Linked DNA regions of Homo sapiens: region 2 is linked to region 1. A link means that fine-mapping ties the variant in region 1 to the expression of a gene that starts in the linked region. Tissue or cell type: whole blood. Region 1 holds a variant in brackets; the other region holds the start of a gene. All regions are shown on one strand. Distances are from middle to middle.

Region 1 (8,183 bases):
GAAATTCTACCAAGCCTCTGATCTGACACCAGAGCCTAGTTCTAAACGTTCCCTGGGTCTGCCCCAATGGTATACACAAGCCCTGGGAAGAGGAAGAAACAGCTTATGATTGCTGTGTCTTCCCCGACGCTGGAAAGAATGGTGTTCCTTGATCCCAGTGCTTCCATGACCCTGATGAAAGCCTCAGCCCTGGATCCCAGAGTGATCGCCTAGAGCAAATGCTTGAGTGAGATTTCAGCTCTTCTCTTGCCAAGATGTGGCTTTTCAAGGCTGGGCTGCCAATGAAAATGTCAACAATGCTCAGATCAAGAGGAAAATGCTCATTTCACCCTCAGAGGGCATCCAACATTCCAGCAGATCAGTGGTGATCCAAGGTGCCCTTTGTTGATCAGGGCAGAGAATACATTTCCTTTCCCAAGACAGAGCAGTCCAGTGTGGTTAGTAAATGGGCCAGCACCAAAGAGGCTGCATGCAGAGTGGAAGCTGAGGCAGGTGATGCCCTCCTTCCTCCACAGAGAGGCTTAGATCCCTTAGAAGAGGCAACTGGTCTTGGGGACATATTCTGAGTCTCTCCTGAAGCAATGGAAATGGGATCCAGCTTTGGAATCTGATCCCCTCCCTTGCAAATGAAACTTGGTTCCAAGGAGCAACCAACTGAACAAATCCCAAATGCCAGACATTGAAACAATGGCAGAATTAGCTAGAGGAGAGCTAATGTCCCTATGAATCTAGCTAGCCCTAAGCCCAAGCCTCACAAGTCAAAATATAAATGAATTATCTAAAACTAAGAGACCTGATTGCTGAATCTTGATTAAGATGAGCATTCAAGATGAGGATACTGAATGTGTTGAAATAGCCAAGGGAGGGCTGGGCTTGTTTCAACTAAGGTGTCTACGTGCCTTATTAACATTACTAACAAAGGAGAAAAAAAGATGTTAAAAAGTAGCAATGATGCAATAACTGGCTTTGAGTGATTCTAGAAAAGGAGCAGGCATTTGCTTTGAAATGAACTCTCAGAATTAGCTTGTTCTTCCACAGGATCATAGACTCGTCTAGTTTTGTGTTTTCCAGACTGTGCTGTGAGGAGAACAAGCAATTCCTGAGAGATCTCAGGCTCCATCCTCCTACCCTGCCTGAGCTGAAGAAGCTCTTTGTGCCCCTTCTGAATATGATTGGGTTTCTGAGTAAGAAGTTGTTGGGAGAAGTCGTTCTGCTGCTTTGTATCGGATAGGACTCTCAGTTGTGAAAGACAAAGACCCTGATTAACACAAAATTCATTTAGGCAAAAGTAGTGTCACACATAAACTGAAAAGTTAAAAGCTGTGAGCTTCAAGCACAGCCAGATACAGTGGCTTCTTTGATGTCAGTGGGGCTGAGGGAGTCTCTGTTTCCTACCTTGCCTCCTTCTATGTCAGCTTTATTCAGGCAACCTTCCTTCCCATGCGGTGGCAAGATGACCATCCGGCGGGTTCAGGCTTCCAGCCGGTCATCTCAGAAGCCCAGTGGTTGTCCTTCCCGATAGCTCTCTATCAATCAGGATTAGGTTAAGCTGCCAAGTAAAAGAAAACTCAAAGTGACAACAGTTTAAACAAGCTAGAAGTTCATTCTGTCTTACATAAACAAAATCCCAAAGTAAGCAGTCCAGGACTGTGTAGTTCCTCCACAAACATACATACGCATGCATGTATCTTTATGATAGAATGAAGGAGAATAGTGCTACAATGAACATACGCATGCATGTATCTTTATGATAGAATGATTTATATTCCTCTGGGTATATACCCAGTAATGGGATTGTTTGGTCAAATAGTATTTCTGTTTCTAGATCTTTGAGGAATTGTCACAGTGTTTTCCACAATGGTTAATTAATGGTTAAATTAATTAATTTACATTCCCACCATCAGTGTAAAAGTGTTCCTATTTCTCTGCAACTTCACCAGCATCTGTTGTTTCTAGACTTTTTAATAGTTGCCATTCTGACTGGCATGAGATGGTATCTCACTGTGGTTTTGATTTGCATTTCTCTAATGATCAGTGATGTTGAGCTTTTTTTCATATGTTTTTTGGCTGCATGAATGTCTTCCTTTGAGAAGTGTCTGTTCATGTCTTTTATCCACTTCTTAAAGGAAAACCCCCGTCTCTTAAAAAGAAAAAAAAAATCCTTGGTCAAATGTAATCATATGCCCACACCTAGTTGTAAGGGAGGCTAGAAGTGTAATCTTTGTTCCTGGAAGATATAAACCCAGCTAAAAGTCAAGAGTTCTGTTACTAAGGGAGATGGAGAAAATGGATTTTGGAGGGAGACTAATAGCATCTCATCTGCCATGTTAAACTAATAGTTCCAACAAAAGTTTTCTGGGTTTTTTTGTTTGTTTGTTTTTGTTTTTGAGATGGAGTCTCACTCTGTTGCCCAGGCTGGAGTGCAGTGGCGTGATCTCTGCTCACTGCAACCTCCATCTCCTGGGTTCAAGTGATTCTCCTGCCTCAGTCTCCCAAGTAGCTGGGAATACAGGTGTGCGCCACCACACCTGGCTAATTTTTGTATTTTTAGTAGAGATGGGGTTTCACCATGTTGGTCATGCTGGTCTCAAACCCCTGACCTCAGGTGATCCACCTGCCTTGGCCTCCCAAAGTGCTGGGATTACAGGCGTGAGCCACCACACCTGGCCAAAAGTTCCAGAATTTCAGACTTTAATCATATGTCCATTCCTGAACCAATTCTTCTGGCCAGATAGAGGAAATACAAAGATTTATCAGGTCTGATTCTTCTGGCCATGCCTAATCCTAGACAGAAAGGATGCTGGGCAGATAGAAACAGCAGAACACTCTCACTCCAGTGTAATCTCTTAATGTTTTTATTTTTCAGCTGCAGAAACTGAGGTCCCAAAAGGTGAAATGACTTGCAATGGGTACATAGTGATTACTTCTGGGGCACAAGATCAAGACTCCACTTTATTGCTCTCCACTATCAGTCAAATATATTTCATAGAAATGTGAAATGAAAGGTCTGTAATTTACACCATATTTGGCTGAACACAAGGATTTCCAATAAATTACTCCTAATTATTTTAAACCTTTGTGAAAATTACACCTAACTTTTTAAGCTCGTGCACAGTTACATAAATAAAGAGAAAAATAAGATGCCTTGCTTTCTTCCTTTGATGAATCCTAATTAGCTTATACCTGTGTTTTCAACCACCGTGAGCAGAAGTGTCAACATCTTGGAACACTCTCTTCCTCCTTCACCCCTCTATCCCTCCTTTCATGAAGCTGCTTGCCAAGCACTGGTAGACAAAGGTGAGAGAGGGTCCTTTCCCTCAAAGGGCTTACATTCTTAAAGGAAAAACAAACAGGTAAACAGACAACGCCCTGGTAGGAGGCCAGGCACTATGGCTCATGCCTGTAATCCTAGCACTTTGGGAGGCCAAGGCAGGTGGATCACTTGAACCCAGGAGTTCAAGACCAGCCTGGGCAACATGGTGAAATCCCATCACTACAAAAAAAAATTAGCTGGGTGCAGTGGCACACCTGTAATCCCAGCTACTCAGGAGGCTGAGGTGGGAGGACTGCTTGAGCCTGGGGAGGTCAAGGCTGCAGTGAGCCAAGATCACACCACTGCATTCCAGCATGGGTAACAGAATGAGACCCTGTCTCAAAAAATAAATAAAATAAAACAAGGTAAATAGGTTTGCATGCTTAGGACGTCAA[G/T]AACAGAGTGGGGGATCTCACTGTCAAAGCTTCACAGGGAGGCAATACTTGAAAAGCCAGCGCAGGCAGGAAAGAGCTTGGGCATAGAGATCAGAATATGCAAACACACATATGCATAGGAGGAAACTACACGGAGTTCAGTATGGCTGGAGCTAGACTGGGAAGGGCATGGAGGAAGATAGGGCAATGAAGAGAACAACATGTCAGATCTGGAAGGTCTTTGTATACCTTGCAAGGCGATAGCTGGACAGTACCATTGCTTACCTAGACCAGTACCATTGCTTACCTAGACCAGTACCATTGCTTACCTAGACCTGAGGAGACAGAATGGCTTCAATTAGTTATCAACCTAAAATTAAAGTTAAAATAAATGCTAAGTGTCAGGGGCAGTGGCTCATGCCTGTAATCCCAGCACTTTGGGAGGCTGAGACAGGAGGATCACTTGAGGTCAGGAGTTCAAGACCAGCCTGGCCAACATGTGAAACTCCGTCTCTACTACAAATACAAAAATTAGCCAGGCATGGTGGCACATGCCTGTAATCCCAGCTACCTGGGTGGCTGAGGCAGAATTGCTAGAACCCATGAGGTGGAGGCTGCAGTGAGCCAAGATTGCACCACTGCACTCCAGCCTGGGCGACAGAGTGAGACTCCATCTCAAAAAATAGTACATAAATAAATAAATGAATAAATAAATGCTAAGTTCCCAGGCAAGTTCCAAAGCAAAGGAATCCTGTCAATTTATTCTGTGATTGTCTTCCCTGAAGTCTGGTTTTGCCAAAAGCACTTGGGGGTGTGGGGGAGAGGGAAGATGGAGGAAGAAAAGTCAAGTTGATCCTCATTATTCACAGATTATATGTTTGCAAATTCTCCTACTCACTAAAATTTCCTTGTACTCCGCAAGTCAACGCTCATATATTGGTGTTCATGTTCATTCAAGGAAACCTGCACAACAGTGAGAAATTCAAGCTGCCCAATGCCCACATTCCCAGGTGTTGAATAAGACAGCATTCTGCCTTCTTGTTTCAGCTCTTACTCTGTAAATAAATGCTCTTTTTGAAGTCATTCTAGTGCCACGTTTTCACATTTTTGTGCATTTTTTTGGTGATTTCACTGTTGCCCCCAAGTGTAGGGCTGAAGTACTTTCTAACACTACTAAATGCAAGAAAACTGTGATTTGCCTTATGGAGAAAATACATGTATTAGATAAGCTTTGATCACGCATGAGTTCCATGTTAATATTCAATGGTCATTAAACAATTACATATTAAATAAGGCAACTTTAAACAGAAACACATATAAAACAAAAGTTACATACTGATTGGTTGATGAAAACGCTGCGACCAGAAGCTCGTAGGAACTTAACCCTGTATTTCTTCCAGGAGCAGTGGTTCAGTGTTCACTAATTCAGTGTCCACTGTGACTTAATAGAGCATAACTACTTCAAATAACAAGAACTATATATCAAGTGCCATTTTACTCTTTGATGTGTTTGATTTTGAAAGAAAAGTTATTCAATAAAATTAATATAAGGAAAGATTGCATGGGTTTTTTAAGTTGTCTTTAAACATGCAGCCTGAATCTGGATTCGAGGTTCATGGAAGGTGCTACATTTTGGGGAAAGTGGAGGAAGGCCTAAAAGGTTCTGTTCCTCTAAAAATATACCTCTCAGAGTTCATGACCAGCCTGGACAACATAACAAGCCCCTGTATCTACAAAAAAGTTTTTTTAAAAATTAGCCAGGCATGGTGGTGCACACCTGTAGTCCTAGCTACTCCCAAGTCTGAGGTGGGAGAATCACTTGAGCCCAGGAGTTCGAGGTTACACTGAGCTATGATTGTACCACTGCACTCTAGCCTGGATGACAGAGTGAGACCTTGTCTCTAAAGGTAAAAAAATAAATAAACAAATATATAAACCTCTCAGTTCCTATCCCACCTATCCTGACTTCTTTCTGTCTACCTTGAGGAAAGGAAAATAAACAAGTTCCCAGAAAAAGCATCAGCAAACTTCTAAATGAATATAACCAACTCCTCTCAGGAGATGGAACAGGCTCAGTGATCACGTGTCTTGGGTTTCCTGGCATGCTCCTGGTTTCACATATTCTGTGCCATTTCTGCTGTGAGCTTACTTGTATCAGACCATGTGTCCTGACTTGGAATCCAAAAATACAGAGATGCAGTCTTTAACCACTTCTATGCACAACAACCTCCAAGTCCCTGGAATGACATGGTGCCTGTCTTACCTCCCAAACCTATGCAGGCCAAATCCTAGGTCCCCCACCCCCATCCCATGCAGGTCAAGTCCCAGCCTCCCCCCATCTCATGCAGGTCAAGCCCCAGTCCTCCCCCAACCCAGACACAAAGAAACACACTGAGTAACTGTCACCTCCCCATTCATAGCTGATGGTGCTCCCAGCTTGTCCCCATAACCCACCCACATGTGCCCACACCACAGGACACCACGGGTCTCCCTCCACTGTGCCAGAGAGGAACACAAAGCAGCAGAGACTGACGCTGAACCCGAGCTCTCACCTGGACCCCCCGACAGCCTCTGCACCAACCTTACTCAGCCTTCCACATCCAGCCTTGTGACAAAAGGCACATGCAGAAACTCTGCCTTGACAACCTTGCCAGTGGGTCATCCCAGTTCAGGTAGAGCTGCCAGGGGTGCCAGACTGAAAGGGCAGACAGCAGGAGTGAAGTGGACAGAGGCAGAAAGGAAGGGGACTGGCACCTGTCGAGCACTTGGCATCGGGCCAGGCGCTGTGTGGCACTTGATGTATCAGATGTCACTTAATCCCTGCCTGAGGATAATCCTCACTGCACACAGAAGGAAACTGAAACTTAAAAGAGTGAATAACTCACCCAGGTCACGGCTATTAAATCCAGAAGAAGAGTCAAACCCCACGTTCACTCGATGCCAATCTCAAGTGATTTCCACCTCATCAGGTCACTTCTGTTTGCTTCCACAGAAAAGTCAGGACCAGGAACTTTGTGAGAATTCAGCAACAGGGATTATGAAAGTGCTTTAAGAATGAAGTTTGCACAAACACAAAAGGTTATTATTAAAAGAAACCCCAAGGGATCGCCCACATTTTCTCAGTGTCCCAGAATCTGGTTGTATCAAATGCTGCTGCCTACAGGGGAAGACTGGGCTTGACTGTGCTTTTGGTGTTCCAGGAATTCAACTTCTGGGTGTAACTCTATTTAGAGGCAGAATGTGTGAGAAGCCCCTGACATCCACACCTGCGCTCGTCATCCTTGCTTAGTACAGGGGCACAGGACCTTCAAACGGAAGCCTTGATCTTACTGGGTCTCCAATTTCATTCTGACCCCTGGGTGCCCAGCCAGCAAGGACCAAGACCTCCTGGTCTTGGTGCCTGGCACCTGGTTCTGGTGCAAGCCCTGGAATCTGTGCTCCTCTCAGTTAGCAAGCCTTTTCCTAACCCTCCCAGAGTGCACACGACAAACTTCAGCCTGGGTTTTCTGCTTTGGGCTCCAGTTCTCCTCACTGATTGAATCTTTTCAATTAAAAATCTCAGAATTTAGCTAAGTATATGAAACCGATGAGTGGAGCCAAGGACCCTCCAAGAGCAGCCTGCCCCCTTGTGAACTGTCTGAAAGATAAATGGAGGAGTCTCTTCTGGAATGAAGAGTAATCGTCAGTGTGGACAGCACCATGCCTCTAAACTAAGACCCCACTCCTCAAGCTTTAGAATGCAGTCATTCGGATTAGGGTTCGGAGCTCCACCATCCACTAGCTGTGTGACCGGGGCAACTTGTTTAATCTTGAGAAATATCATTTTTCTCCTCTGAGAAACTGGAATCATCACCTCTGCCTGACAATACTGTTGGATGGATTATGTGAAATCATGAATATAAAACATGTGGTTCAATGTCCGCACACATAGAAGGTCCTCAATAAATAGAAGTTTAGATAGGTAGGTAGGTAGGTAGGTAGGCAGGTAGGTAGATAGATAAAGAGAGAGATTAGAGATAGGGTCTCACTCTGTCACCCAGGCTGGAGTGCAGTGGCACCATCCATAGCTCACTGCAGCCTTGAACTCCTGGGCTCAAGTGATCCTCCTGCCTCAGCCTCCCCAGTGACTGAAACCACAGGTGAATGCCATGACACCTGGCTAATTTTAAAATTTTCTGTAGAGACATAGTCTTGCTATGCTGCCCAGGCTGGTCTCGAACTCCTGAGTTCAAGCGATCCCCCTATCTCAGCCTCTCTAATTATTGGAATTACAGGCGTGAGCCATTGTGCCCAGCCCAAACAGCAGACATTGATTTAAATGACAGGAGAATGAAGACGAATCGTATTCTCTTGACCACTGCCTGCATGAAGATGTCTCTGACTCCCCCGATGGGAAAAACCATGGCCCCTCCCTTCTGCCTTCCTCAGCACATTGTCAGGTCCTCATTTGTGTAATTTTCATGTCCTGACTTGTATTTGAGCTATCTAAATAATCA
Region 2 (8,183 bases), 46 kb after region 1:
GGCAAAACTAGAATCTAGACACATGAGTGTGTTTAGGGATGAGGGAAGACGATAACAATACAGCTCATCGTCCTTTGATTCCTCTTTCACCTGGGATCGATCCTCTTCCCAAACATGAAGAGGGTTTTCCTTGGGTTATATTTGCCCTCAAATTTCCTCATTCAAAAATAATCTGTTTGCTGGGTGCAGTGGCTCACGCCTGTAATCCCAGCACTTTGGGAGGCCGAGGCGGGTGGATCACGAGGTCAGGAGTTCAAGACCAGCCTAGACAACACGGTGAAACCCCGTCTCTACGCAAAAAAATACAAAAATTAGCTGGGTGTGGTGGCACGCACCTGTAATTCCAGCTACTCGGGAGGCTGAGGCAGGAGAATGGCTTGAACCCAGGAGGCGGAGGTTGTGGTGAGCCGAGATCGTGCCACTGAACTCCAGCCTGGGCGACAGAGTGAGATCCATCTCAAAAAATAATAATAATAGTCTGTTTTACCACCTAGTCTCAGTGGCCAAGGGCTGCAGGAAAATACTCCAAATATACAATGTATGAAAATTGTTTTCTTCGTTCACTCCATTAGACTGAAATTTTGAGGGTAGAGACTGTTTTACCTGTTTAAGGGTGTTCTCAACCCCTAGTAACAAATATGTAGAAAACCAGCTCCTAGGAGATCTTACTGAGTTAGTAAGGAAGCATCAACTTCGGAGACAAACACTAGTAGACATTTAATTCAAAACAGGATCAGATCATGAAACGGAATAGAAAGTCCAAAACAGGCAGACAGAGGGACAGACAGACAGACACACACACACACACACACACCACTGATTTTCTTTTTCTTTTTTTTTTTTTTTTTTTTTTTGAGACAGAGTCTCGCTCTTTAGCCCAGGCCGGAGTGCAGTGGCACTATCTCCGCTCACTGCAAGCTCCGCCTCCCGAGTTCACCCCATTCTCCTGCCTCAGCCTCTCGAGTAGCTGGGACTTATAGGCGCCCGCCACGGCGCCCGGCTCATTTTTTGTATTTTTAGTAGACACGGGGTTTCACCGTGTTAGCCAGAATGATCTCGATCTCCTGACCTCGTGATCCGCCCGCCTCGGCCTCTCAAAGTGCTGGGATTACAGGCGTGAGCCACCGCGCCCGGCCCCCACTGATTTTCAACAGAGATACAAAGGCAATTCAGTGAAGAAATGAGAGTCTTTTCAACAAATGGTACGTAAACAACTGAATAACAACTGCATAATCATACGGGGGGAGGGAAGAGTTTCACTCTATACCTATGGGAGGCAGAAATGCCCTCCCCAAGAGGTCCACACCCTAATCCCCTCAAACCCCTAACGTGTTAAGAGAGTAAAAAGACAAATCACAGACTGTGAAAAATGCATGCAAATCACATATCTGATAAAGGATTTTTCTCCAGAATGTATAAAGAACTCAAAACTCAAAAACAGCCCGGCCAAGTTCTCACGCAAGTATAAAGGCCTCAGGAAAACATCTTTAAACATACAAAAATCCAAGAATTAAAGTGCCTTAAAAATTTAAAACTGACCTTAAGCCCAGCCAATAAAGATGTAAATCAAAACAAAATAAAACAAAAAACCCCTCAACAACAGGAAAATAAAATACAAACAAAAAAATGGGCAAAAGTTTTAAATAGACACTTCACCAGAGAAGATACATGGATGGCAAATAAGTACAGGAAAATATGTTCAAAATAATTAGTCATGGAAAAATGAAAATTATAGCTGCAGAAGATATTACTACCCAAGTCTTGGCAAAGATGTGGAGCAACTGGAACTCTGGTGGGAATGCAAAATGGTGTCACCACTTTGGAAAACAGTTTGTCAGTCTGCCAAAAAGTTAAACGTGTTTTTACCGTACAATCTAGCCATTCTACTCCTAGGTATGTACCCAAGAGAAATGAAAGCATTAAGGTCTACACACCTATGCAAAGACTTGCAAATGAATGTCCATAGCAGCTTTATTTGTAACATCCCAAAACTGGAAGCAATCCAAATGTCCATCAACAGATGAATGGATAAACAAACTGTGGGATGGCCATACAATGGAATAGCTATCCAGCATCAAAAATAAATGAATTATTGATAACACAACAACAGATGGACTTCAAAATAGTCTATGTGAAAGAAGCCAGGCAAAAAAAGGGGGTACACACTATATGATTCAATTTATATAAAATTCAAGGAAATGAAACTAATGTTGAGTGACAGAAGGTGGATCAGTGCCTGGGAAATGGGGTCTGGGAGAGGCAGGAGGGAGAGATTACACAGGAGCTGGAGGAACCTTTTCAGGGCAATGGAGCTTTACTATCTTGATTGTGACAGTGGTTTATGGGTGTATTCATATGTCCAAAGTTATCAAATCCACTGCTTTAAATGTGTGGTTTATTGTATGCCATTTATATCTCGAAAAAGCTGTTTTTAAAATACAGTAAGAGAATTTTTCATATTTAAAAGGCAGGATATTTAAACTATATTAAATATATAAAAGACAGTGGTACTAACAGGTTGTATTAGCAGGAGACAAGGGTAAGGTGGGGTTTCTTTGGCTGCCTTGCAAAGAAATGCTGAGTCAAGTAAGGGCCAGTGGGCAACGAGGGCGGAACCACTTGTCCCCTTGGTCACCTGAGGGATGTGGATGGGAGCTGGGTGGAAATGGGGGGTGAGAGGAACGCCGCCCCCAAAGAAGAGTCGGGGCAGGGGCGCCCAACGCTGGGGCCCAGGCAGGTTCTTCGTCCTCACTTCCTGACCCTTTCTCAAGAGTCTAGGGACCAAATGGATCCATCCTTGGAGCCTGCTTTCTACTTCTGAACACAATGAGCAGTTTGTGTTTGAGGGTTTGGGGAGGGGGTGTTGTTTTTTCTTTATGTTTTGTTTTTTGTTTTGTGTATGAGTTGGGTGGCATAACCCACACGTAAGCTGCGACGTCCAATCAAGAACGAAAATGACCCCTCACAATCAGTGATCGGGAACCACCTGCCACAATCACTAGGGAAGTGACACAGCCGGGAAACTCCGCCCCTCACACCCCCGCGCGCTCGCGCCGGCCGCAGCCCCACAGCTCGCCCCGGCCGCAGCCCCACAGCTCGCCCCGCCTCTCTCCTTCCGGAAACAATCCCCGCGCGGGCGGAAGGCGGGGTCGGCCCTGGCCCCGCCCACATCATTTCCCTTCCTCGGCCCAGCCCCACAGCGCGCAGCTTCGGCAGGGTGGCTTTACGGCCGGAGGAGAGGGTGGGTCCCAGACCTGAGGTAGGAGGCCGAGCTGAGGGGCGGGGAAGAGGCTTTTTGCGGCAGGACGTAAGTGACGGCGAAGGCGGTGCGACAGCAGCTGGAGGGCAGAGGAGGCGGGTTTGTGTTTCCCGGGCCGAACCGGGTTGTGGGGGGCGCGGGGCCTGGGCCAGGCGGCAGCTAAGGCCCGCGGTGACAGCATGGGTGAAGGGGAGCGGGGCAGAGGAGGCCTTGGGCTGTTTTCGGCGGCGGGTGGGGGCGAGGGGCTGGCGGGTCAGAGTCCCGGGTCCAGGCCGGGGCTCTGACTCGCGGTTGGTGTTCCCCCGACCCCGCAGCGCGGGGTGTCCTGTCCTCGCCATGAGGCCGCAGCAGGCGCCGGTGTCCGGAAAGGTGTTCATTCAGCGAGACTACAGCAGTGGCACACGCTGCCAGTTCCAGACCAAGTTCCCTGCGGAGCTGGAGAACCGGGTACGCAACCTGGCTCCCCACGCCTGCTCTGGCGAGGGAGAGAGACTCACCGGGGACGGGAAGGGTGTGGGCGACAACCGGGCCTTTGAGGGTCCCGCAGTTCTGGGGAGGTCCAGGCACAGAAGGGGCCTTGGCCAAACGTGTAAGAAGAGAGCCACTAAGCAAGACAGGTGTTTGGAGCAGGAAGAATAATATAGGCCGATCGCCGGGGTTGACGACCTTATGGAACTTTGTTGCCCGGTGCCGGGAATCTGGATCCAGCAGTGTTCCCCTGCTGCACTCCCCCAAATCCCCACCCCGGGTTATTGTCGGCAGCGATGAGGAGCCAATTCCTGAGGCTCCAGGTCGTCTCAGTCACCAGGTTGTAAACTATATCCTCCTACCTCTCCGCGCAAGATAAATCATCATCATTCTCGTGACTGGTGTTTGCTGCCTCTGTGCTGGCCGCACTGTTTGGCTGAAAGGGTTTATTAGGTGCATGGCCAGGCGGTGCGTTCAGGCTTTCTTGGAACCTTAAAGACGTCGGGCGTTAGATAGGCCTGGACAGGAAAATGTCTCAGAACAAGGCCTTAAACTTGTCACATTCACTGGGAGCCACCTGTTTTGTCTTGCATATCAAAATGGTCATCAGGATATAGGTCCTTTGGGCAACATTGCAGGCAAAAATGGAAGAATGGGATTTGCTTCCCCTTCAGACCTAGCAAAACTTTAAAAAAAAAAAAAAAATCATTGTATCTTGTTGTAGAGGTAATGGAGTGTGTGCGTGCCTGCCTGTGTTTTTGTGTGCCCACATATGTACATTCAACCAAAGATTCTTTTGGTCTTGACCCATGTTATGTAGATTGTGTTTCCCGTTCAGGGATCAATTTCTGGTTAGCTGGAAGCAGGTTTTGTGGCTCTCTCCTCTGTGACAGGGAGGACGAGGGCCTGAGAGGTGATTAGGCATTCCTTGGGTGTGGGACTGAGAGATGCTGGTCATGGGATAAGTGGGTGTGGATGAGTCTGTGTAGAGAAATGTGTAGCAGTTATTTACAGTCAGTTTGCAGTGAGGTGGGTTGCACTGCCCGATTTCCATGGTTGGGAAATCAACAATGATCCATTATAGTTTCCTTCAGTTTGACATAACCATGGGCAGCTTCATGGCCCAAATATGTTTCTTGAATTGCAAATGGATCAAATATGCCTTTAAAAGATGGTGAGGTGACTTGTTTCTGAAATGCCATTTAAATGCTGCAGTATGTTGTCAACTATGTTATGAGTTAACTGAGCGTGACAATAGGTGGAACTATCTACAGTGGTTTGAAGAGGTAGAAATTCAGCAAGTGGCCAGTTGGGTAGAGCTACTGAATGTTGTTTTAAAATAATTTAACATCACAATTGATGTGTTTTACATGTTAAGATTGACATGGAATCTGGCTGGGCCCGGTGGCTCACGCCTGTAATCCCAGCACTCTGGGAGGCCGTGGCGGGTGCATCACTTGAGGTCGGGAATTCAAGACCAGCTTGGCCAACATGGTGAAACCCCATCTCTACTAAAAATACAAAAATTAGTCAGGCATGGTGGCGGGCACCTGTAATCCCCGCTACTCAGGAGGCTGAAGTAGAAGAATTTCTTGAACCTGGGAGGCGGAGGTTGCAGTGAGCCGAGATCATGCCATTGTACTCCAGCCTGGGCGACAGAGCAAGACTCTTGTCTCAAAAAATAAATCAAATAAAAAGATATACATGGAATCAATCAAATGTTTTATTTTTAAGCCTCTTACGGAAACTATGACATACAATTTATGTACTTCAAAATCAGAATATAAAGTATTCTTTTTTTACCACAATTATTTGGACATTAAAGATTCCTTTGCTTTAAGGTTTTAAAGCAACACTTACACCTCATATATTTGAGCTAAATGTGTATACACAGAATCAGACATTAGCCTTCCACTCTGTGTGTGGCAGAGCCTTTATTTTGTAATCTAAGTGCAAAAGCACAATGTAGTTACTGTGCTCCACTGATTCTTGTCAGGAAATTGATGTTTCTAAATTCTGGAGTCCTTTTACCTCTTTGACTCTGTATAGCCCAGAACTGCTTGTGGTACTGAGTACTATATGGAATGTTACATGGCACTCTTCAATTGTGCCTTTGAATTTCTTTTTTCTTTTTAAATGTTTGGGTTAAAACACTAGCTTATGCTTTAAACCACTAGAAAAGCTTTGATTGTCTGTGTATGTGTGTTGAGATTAAATTTAAATTACAGGTTTAAACTTTCCTTGCTTTGATGAAAAATTGAAAGGTTTCTGTTTCTCTACTACTTACCCTAGAAATTTTACTGATTGCTCTGCTATTGGAGCTGATTTTCCTTTTGTGAGAACATCACACTTGGCAACATAATAGAGAAAGTGACTAATATGCAAGTGTTTTGTATTATTTTAAAGCATTTTTTAAAAATACACACACATTTGTGCCCTTTAATTTGGGAGTAGGATAGGTTCTGTCTGTTAACAAGTTCATTTTCTCTGCTGCCTTTTAGAATGTAATACTTTGATGCTTAAGCGATTTGTTGCCAGAACAATTCCTTAAAGGAAACTTTATTCTCATTAGCCTTAAAATACAGATATCTTAGTTACCCTTGGTCTGGGTAGAAGAATGAGTGAACTGTAATTGAGGCATTTTTTCCCTTTAAAAATATGTCTCCCCATCTGGTTAGTAATTACCTTTGACCTGCCACCCTTGATACGTGATCACTGCATGCTTCACCATGCTTTCTACTGTGTAGTTCACAGTAATTCTGGGAAAATAAGCCTGATTTCTCTTTCCATTCTGATTTTTGATGTTTGTGGGTCCAAATTTTATTTGGCTGTGACTTCTCATATATCTAAATTTTGATAGAGCTCCTGTATCAGTGTCCAGGAACCTAAGGGAGAACACTGGCCACTGTTATTCATAGCCTAAAGGTAGTAAGATACAAATGCCAACATTTGTTCTCTTGAGCCCTTTCTTGTGAAGTTTGTCGTTTGCCTTTATTGATGCCTTCTGTGATTTTTACCCTTTATTTCCCTTTTTTAAAATAACCTTTCAAAAACTTGTTGGCATTTACTTTTCTTTAACCATTTATCCTTTCTTTTTCTTTTTTTATTAACCTTTTTTTGTTTGTTTGTTTAACTGACGTATGATTTACCTCTAACCTATAGGGCATTGTAATCTCGGAATAACGCATAAGAATTAAGTGTTTCTGGCTGGGCATGGTGGTTTGCACCCAAGTAATCCCAGCTGCTCTGGGGGTTGAGGTAGGAGTATCCCTTGGGGCCAGGAGTTCAAGACCAGTCTGGGCAACATAGCGATACTCTGTCACTAAACTTAAAAAATAATAATAATTAGGGTTTCCGGGATAAACAGTAATTCTGATATGAAAGAAATAAGATGTTTCTGGGTTGAATCCCATGGTTTTGAATTGTATTGTAAAGAAATATAAATAATTCAATGACTTATAACATAGGCACATCAAATGTGATTGGAATTATTTAGACTTTTGTAGACTTATCGGTGGACAAACTGAAGGCATTAACGTAGGCATAATTAGGTGAACGTAACAGCTTACCATTTTTGTTTGCTGAGCTCTCCTCAGTCTGTTTTCGTGAATGAGAACTCACAGTTTCCCAGATGACCAGCCTTGACACCACATCTACAAGGGGTAGCTCAGTGAAGAAACACTGCCCCTGCGTTTAAAGGCCGTCTTGACCCACCTAGCCTTTGTCCAAATCTCTAATATTCCTGGAAATTTAAAGTAACTCCTTTTGAAAAATGGGTAGAGCCAACACCACTTTAAAGTTTGCATTAAATTCATGCATGCCACTAGCCCATTGACTCCTCACATTTTCCACACAACGGACAAAACAATGACTACAACTGCTTCTAACTTAAAGAGTTGTCATAGCTTAAGGATGGTCATGAATTGTTTTACACTTTAAAAGATTATGTTCTTGAGGCCAGGTGCAGGTGGCTCTTTGGGAGGCCAGGGGGGTGGATCACATGAGGCTAGGAGCCTGAGACCAGCCTGGCAACATGGCAAAACCTCGTCTCTACTAAAAATACAAAAATTAGTAGGGAATGGTGGTGCACGCCTGTAATCCCAGCTACTCGGGAGGCTGAGACACGAGAATCACTTGATCCTGGGACCAGAGGTTACAGTGAGCCAAGATTGCGCCACTGCACTCCAGCCAGGGTGACAGAGTGAGACTCTGTCTCAAAAAAAAAAAAAAAAAAAAAAAAGATTACATTCTTGGGAATAGTGAATAGTAGGGCTCATACTGTATGTTGAGGGTTTTTTTTCTTTCTTTCTTTTTTTGAGACAGGGTCTCACTCTGTCACCCAGACTGGAGTGCAGTGGTGAGATCTCAGTTCACTGCAACCTCCACTTCCCAGGCTCCAGCAATCCTCCCACCTCAGCCTCCTGAGTAGCTAGGACTATAGGCATGCACCACCACG

What was found. PIP is the estimated chance that this variant, and not a neighbour inherited with it, causes the effect.
Region 2: it holds the start of GOLGA7, and the variant in region 1 is fine-mapped to the expression of GOLGA7 in whole blood (TOPMed, PIP 0.98).

What each region holds. Positions count from the first base shown.
Region 1 is chr8:41,441,202-41,449,384 of GRCh38, forward strand. LOC124901938 (a long non-coding RNA gene) reads right to left here and starts at 1,739. Exons shown (of 2, transcript XR_007060897.1): 1 at 1,396-1,739. The variant G/T (reference allele first, on the strand shown) is at 3,709.
Region 2 is chr8:41,487,260-41,495,442 of GRCh38, forward strand. GOLGA7 (golgin A7) reads left to right here and starts at 3,323. Exons shown (of 5, transcript NM_001002296.2): 1 at 3,323-3,706. The coding sequence starts at 3,596. RefSeq lists a silencer at 2,954-3,213 and enhancers at 3,264-3,393, 3,684-3,793, 3,844-3,953.